2 linked regions of the Homo sapiens genome follow. The protein of the gene in region 1 purifies or fractionates together with the protein of each later gene. This does not show direct contact. Each region holds a gene or a part of one and is shown in the gene's direction. Other genes may lie near its edges.

What was found.
Region 2: the proteins of ZNF131 (region 1) and MTPN purify together in Homo sapiens (affinity purification with mass spectrometry, with the first as the bait; one large-scale study listed by BioGRID). This does not show direct contact.

The regions. Positions count from the first base shown.
Region 1 is NC_000005.10:43,137,914-43,141,413, forward strand, and holds part of ZNF131 (zinc finger protein 131), read left to right. Parts: intron 1-1,251; coding exon 1,252-1,396; intron 1,397-3,500. UniProt on the Homo sapiens protein: Plays a role during development and organogenesis as well as in the function of the adult central nervous system. May be involved in transcriptional regulation as a repressor of ESR1/ER-alpha signaling.
Region 2 is NC_000007.14:135,926,079-135,929,604, reverse strand, and holds the end of MTPN (myotrophin), read left to right. Parts: 3' UTR 1-2,845; downstream 2,846-3,526. UniProt on the Homo sapiens protein: Promotes dimerization of NF-kappa-B subunits and regulates NF-kappa-B transcription factor activity. Plays a role in the regulation of the growth of actin filaments.

The DNA.
Region 1 (3,500 bases):
TATGCAACCACATGGATGAACCTTGAGGACATTATGCTAAGTGAAGTAAGCCAGTCACAGACATAAACTGCATATTTCTATTTATATGAGGAATCTAAAATAGTCACTTCCACTCATATGAGCTATCTCAAATAGATTGAAAGAGTGGAATACGGGTTGCTAGGGGCTGGGAGGGAGGAGGAAATGGGCAGTTACTAATCAGTGGGCATAAAGTTTCAATTGCGCAAGATGAATAAACTGGAGGTCTGTACAACATTGTACCTAGAGTCAACAATAGTGTACACTTAAAAATGTGTTAAGTGGGTAGATCTCATGTTCTTATTACAATAAATGTTAAAAGGTTTCATTGAACATGTGACATTAGAGTTGGACCTTTAAGGGGTGGGTGGTAGGATGAGTATAACCAGAGATGAAATGATTAAGCATCCAACTAGGAGGGTGTTAATAAAGGCAAGTCAGGCTGGGTGCGGTGGCTCACGCCTGTAATCCCAGCACTTTGGGAGGCTGATCGGGCAGATCACTTGAGGTCGGGAGTTTGAGACCAGCCTGACCAACATGGGGAAACCCCATCTCTACTAAAAATTCAAAATTAGCCAGGCGTGGTGGTACATGCCTGTAATCCCAGCAGCTCGGGAGGTTGAGACAGGAGAATCTCTTGAATCTGGGAGGCAGAGGTTGTGAGCCAAGATCACTGTATTGCACTCCAGCCTGGGCAACAAGAGTGAAACTCCATCTCAAAATAAATAAATAAAGGCAAGTCAGCTATTAGAAAGTGCAGGGTTTGTTTGAGAAATAGTATATAGTGTGTGTGTGATGTCGTTTAAAATTTGGAAAGGTAAATAGGAAAATAATGTGAAGGGCCTTGAAATAAAGTCAGAGAGGTACTAAATTTTGTTTGCTAAGTTGTGAAAAGCTATTGAAGATTTTGGAGCTGAGTTGGCACAGCTGTAATCTCCCTGGCAAGAAATGTAGCATGTCTGACATGTAATAGCCAATTCATATATTTGAGTGATAGAATCTTACTGTTCTCCAAGAGCCTCAGGAAATTTAAAGTAGTTTAAGATTTTCCAGCTAGGTAGTGCTGAAATTTGGCTGTAATATTATTGTATTGCTAATGAGAATTTTTCCAGAAAATAGTTTTCAAAAATAAATACTCAACAAGCTCCAAGCCCTGGGCTTTTCTTTCTTTACTAAACATTGTAAGATTTGAGTCAATATGATTACATGCTCTAATGTACATCTTCTTTACAGGTGTTAGTAAAATGGCCTTTCGCCATTTAATTGAGTTCACATATACAGCAAAATTAATGATACAAGGAGAAGAAGAAGCCAATGATGTATGGAAAGCAGCAGAGTTTCTACAAATGCTAGAAGCTATCAAAGCCCTTGAAGTCAGGTACTTAATTTCTTTAATGGGGTTCAGATAGTCATATTCAGTCATGTTCATTCTGTTAGTGAAGAACTTACAGTATGTGTCATGCCATGAAGAACAGAGTTCTTCAGAAGAATTAAGAATATTTAAGGATCTATTAAAAAATTTTCTGGATACTGATTGTTCTTTCACTTGACTTTGATTTTCTGATCATGTGTTAAAACTGCTAATATTAAAGTAGCATCTTTGGTATGTAATAAAATAAATCTAGACAGCTTTTTAAGGATCTGGATCCTTATAAACTGTTTTGTTGGATTCAAGTTATTGTTTATACCAAGCCTTATCCTACAAAGGGTTTGGCTTACAAAGATTAACATAATACTGTTTAAAAATAAGGAAATAGATGGAAATAAATAAATTGGTTTAATAAGGAGATAATCATTTCAAGTTAGAAGTATGATAGCCAAAAATGCATACCATAAGTCTATAGTAGATGTGCTAAATCTAGCTCTAAGTGCACCTAGTTCAAAGAAAAAGACTATTCAGTTACATTATTCCTTGTTAGAAGATGAGAACAAATCAATTGCTGAGGAGCCATTCCTATTCCTAGTATTAAAATTTCTCCTGAGAAGTATTAAGAAAACATTAGGCCAGGCCCAGTGGATTACGCCTGTAATCCCAGCACTTTGGAAGGCTGAGGTGGATGGATAGCTTATGCCCAGGAGTTCACAAACAGCCTGGGCAACATGGTGAAACCCTGTCTCTACAAAAAATACAAAAATTAGCTGGGCATGGTAGTGCATGCCTGTGGTCCCAGCTACTCAGGAGCTGAGGTGGGAGGGGAGGATCACCTGAGCCTGGCAAGGTTGTGGCTGCAGCGAGCTGTGATCACGCCACTGACTGCATACCAGCTAGGGGGAACAAAGTGAGACCCTGTTTTTTTAAAAAAGAGAAAACGTGAAAGGATATAATGAACAAAGACCTCAACATCCTTACTTGATGAATAATGGCAGTGTAACATAGTTACTAAGAATAAGAGCTCAGGAGTCAGTTTCCCTGGGTTAACATCCTGCTTCTACCACTGTGTGGCCTTAATTAAGTTACTTAACCCTCCTGTCAGCTGTGTCCTCCTCTGTCAAATGAGAGTAATAACGGTACTTTCTACATGGGATTTGATTGTGAGGGTTGAATGAATTAATGCATGCAAAGTGTTTAGCATGGTGTCTGGCTAAATGACTCTGAGTACTCTAAGTATGAACTATTATCTCCTGGTACTGTTTTTTATGTTTCTCAATACAGATCATTGGCCTGATGCCAAAACAGTTTGGTAAAATCAGTTTCACATAGCGGCACAATGATTTAATCTTAACTCACTGTTGTGGTTTAGTTAAAAGATAAAATTTATTTCTCTGAGGACTCTACTGGAATTTTATTTTATTTTATTTTTTTGAGATGGAGTCTTGCTCTGTCTCCCAGACTGGAGTGCAGTGGCACAATCTCGGCTCACTGCAACCTCCATCTCCTGGGTTCAAGCAATTCTCCCTGTCTCAGCCTCCTGAGTAGCTGGGATTACAGGTGCCTGCCACCATGCCCAGCAAATTTTCGTATTTTTAGTAGAGGTGGGGATTTCGCCATGTTGCCCAGGCTGGTCTCAAACTCCCAACCTTAAGTGATCCGCCTGTCTCAGCCTCCCAAAGTGCTGGGATTACAGGTGTGAGCCACTGTGACTGGCCGAATAAAAGTTTTTTTTTAAGAGATAAAAATTTAGATAACTCTAAGAATACTGAACTGTACTCGTCCATAAATATCATCTCTTAGTTTGACAGTTCAAGATTAAACCTTTCTGACAAGAGCTTGATACGTATATATATTCTTTGATGCTTAGCACCTGGCATATAGCAGGTGTACAGGAAACATTTGTGAATAGATAGATGGATACATGCTAATTAAAACCAGATCAGTACTCTTGCAGAGAGACCTGAGCATGGATGTCAAAATAGAGATGCATTCTGAGGATATAAACCTGATCAGGCCATCTCTTCTCAAAAAGATTAAAGGAAATATATATGGATGGGGCGATGTCAGATTGTGGTTAAATATTGAATGAGAGCCTTCCAAAAGAATGTTC
Region 2 (3,526 bases), on another chromosome or scaffold:
CTAATTTATTAGATTGTGTTGAAGGTCTGATTCTACAAAGGCCAACTCTACATATTTGGTAGCCCTAACTGTCTGAGCAGTAGTGGCTGCTGTGATGTAAACTTAGGGTGCTGAGATAAGCAATTAGCTCTAGCCTTCTGCCTTAAGAATGCACTCTACTGGGGATTTCCTGGCATAGTTAAGAGCGCTGCCTATAAGGTTGGTGACCAAATCTTTCCTCGGTGACTTTAAGCTTTATGTGAAAGCTTAGTTAAGGTGAGGAGGGGCACACTCCTAAATTGCTGGATGACTGAACTTTGGATTTTCTCTCCCCTTTCACATGGATTTCATGTCTCTTTAGATAAAACTGACTAGTTTTATTTATAAAATCTTAAGTTTTGGAAGTCTAAAGGAGAAACCATTCCAGTATGCATATTTTTTTCTCCTCTAGATTCATACATTTATATAGCATTGAAACACTTTCAAACTCCTGCTGGTAGTAAAAGGGGATTTAAAAATAGAATCATAGCCATAAGCCTGTTAGTATCATATGAAGAGAGAACAGTTATCTTAGTACCTATGGATTTTCTTTATTTGCTGTTTGAATGGATTGACCTTGGTTATGTGTTGAGAATTAAGGAACATTCTTTGAAATGCCTCTCTCAGACCCATCTTGGAGGCTGATTACTTACTGCACCAAAGCTATCACTGGGGTGAGATTTACTGTTTGGACAAATTTAGCCCCATCCCTTCAAAAATACACTTGTAACCAGGTTTCCCAGAGTTGTTGATAGGCTTCTGCTGAACATATGCCAACCCACCTGCATAATATATTTTTGTTGCTTTTATAAATCATGCATTACATAAAGTGTGACAACTTCAAAATGTATTCTCTGTTCTTGGAATACAGTGCCCTAAAATGGTGTTCTTATGACCTGCAGAAAATATTTACACATATTTCCAAATATTTATTTCATGAGCAGTACAGCTAATTAAAATATATAAGCTTAAATTTTATATCTTACATTTAAAATATTAAGATTCCTTTGACTTGCCATCCATATAAGCTTGCTAAAAATATTAAGACCAAGTCATGCAATAATTGAATGTACCTCAAATTTTTAGGGGAGGGTGGGTTAGGGACTGATACTCAGATTGTGGATAATAATTGAATTGGTTTTTAAAGGCAACATAGCATTCTACAGCAGGGTTAATCTATTATCAAGAACAGTCACCCTGGTTAATAACAAGTTTTACTGATCAGTTGCTGGTTGGTTGGTTGGTTGGCATGTGGGTGTGTGGGTGTATAGGTGTGTGTGGGTGTGTGTGTGTATTTTTCCCCATGAGTCCTTTTTTTAATCCTGTGGCTTTTTCACTTACAACTAGCCTAACCCTGTAATTTTCCTACATCCAAGAAAACAATCACAAAGTAGTGGTTTAAATACTTTGTTGTATTTGGCTAATTTTGCTGTCTTAATGCAGCCTATTAAGAGTTGGGTTAAAAATCAGTAATCAGTACTTTATTACATCACTGAACTAAAATATGGAGACATCCTCATTGAAAATGGAGGGCACTCTATCAGTCTATAACTATCAACGTAGTGCAACAGGGTGTTTTGATACCTTTGTTTTCACCTCTTGACATAATGCTATTTAAAGGCTTGAATTTTTCCCTTTATATAATTTTCACCTTTACTTTCAAAGTGTTTTGTTGTAGTTGGCTATTGCAGAGAGTGCATTGTCCTATCATTCCTAAACCTGGTCTGCTTTCTACATTCATGGTATGGAAACCATGTGATTCTTTGTACAGTTTATCCTGATGTTGCTTGTAATGCAGTAGAGGCTATTTCGCCTTCGCTTTTCTTTCTCGACCTTTTTGTAAACCCTATAATTATGAAGCGATTGCTTGAGAAAATAACATATAAACATAGAATAGAATAGACTGACCAAGATGGTTCACAGTTTCTTTTTTTAACTAGGTTATTTATAATGTATTTCTGAACCACTTGGCAGACAAATTCACAACACTTAATGTTCATATTTTGAGTAAAGGAAGCTAAAACCATGTTTGCTTTCTGGTACTACATGCATTAGCGAAAGGTTAAGTAAGTTTTGTTCTCCACTGAAGTAATACTTAACATCTCAGAAAAAATTTTGCATGTTCTGTAGTTTTGTATTAAATCAGTCATTTCATATGCACTATATCAAGTACAAACAGGTAGTTTACCTGTTTATAGTAGTGTACTAACAAAGTCTCCCTTGCAGCTTCAGACTGTTATCTATAGGCTTATCGTTCAAATACAGCACTTGAATATCCCAAGTAGTTCTTCTACGCATAGCTCACCTTTCTAAACCCAGTTAAGCATGGAAGAGAGGTAGTAGGTAGGTGCAGTGTGTGGAAGCTGCAAACAAGTAGGCCTTTTATTCATTGATATCTTTTCCCAAGTACTGGATTTTAAATCTGTATGTATCTGTTTGATTTTTTTTTCTAATATTTCAGTTGAGCTGCTGTTTTCTTCCATGCAATATTGTATACTCAATTGTGTATAGAAGAAGCTGGTGAGAGTGCCCTCCTACATAAATAAGCAATTGCAGTGTTTTGCATGCAAAATATAAAAAATTTAAATTGTCCTGATTCTATTTTGTAAATGGAGAAACAATCATATCTTTCTAAGCGGTAATGGAGGAAGACTAGTGCTTTGTGCATTTTGATATATTTGAGTTCATTTTTTCCACAATGTCATACTTTTGACGCAGTTGGGTTTCTCATAAGTATCCTAGTTCATGTACATCCGAATGCTAAATAATACTGTGTTTTAAGTTTTGTGTTGCAAGAACAAATGGAATAAACTTGAATTGTGCTACAGCTAATGTGTCAGCAGCATTTTTCTCAGTTATTATCACCTTCCTTTTGTAGTCATCTCTACAACTATACCAGAAGCTTGATTGACTCAAACATTTAGTTAATCTTATCCCACTTCTAGAAAAAAATGAGTGGAGGGAAAATAAAACATAAAGATTTAATTGAAATAAACCTTACCAGTCTTTGAAAGGATTTGCTTTTGTGTCAGTCTCCTGACATTGTTTTACTGTAACTTCAGTAACGCTCCTGGTTGACGGGGAGCAGGGTGTAGCCAGCACATCCCAGATCGTCAGGATCTTCAGGGGGCTTGAAGAAAATGGAGTCGTGGTTAAACCTCTGATCCTTTCATTGCTCATCTAAGTTGCTCCACATTTCTTGGAGATCTGCATTTCCCAAACTCAACTACGAGCACTTTTTTAGAGTGTAATTTTCAGGATGAGTGATCACTTTGAACCTTAAAACTGAACAAAATTAAATACAAAATCAGTTTGATTGTGTTGTAATCTTGTTAGCACCAGAAGACTATTGCAGTTTACTTTTAGTGATAGAAAAAAAATATATATGTGCAGATACTAAGTTACAGCAAAAGCTGTATTTTAGAACTTTCACATTGTTGACTGAAGTATAAATGGGGACCATGTACGGCTTTAGGTGGAAGTGATTACAGAAATTTTTTTAAGTTCT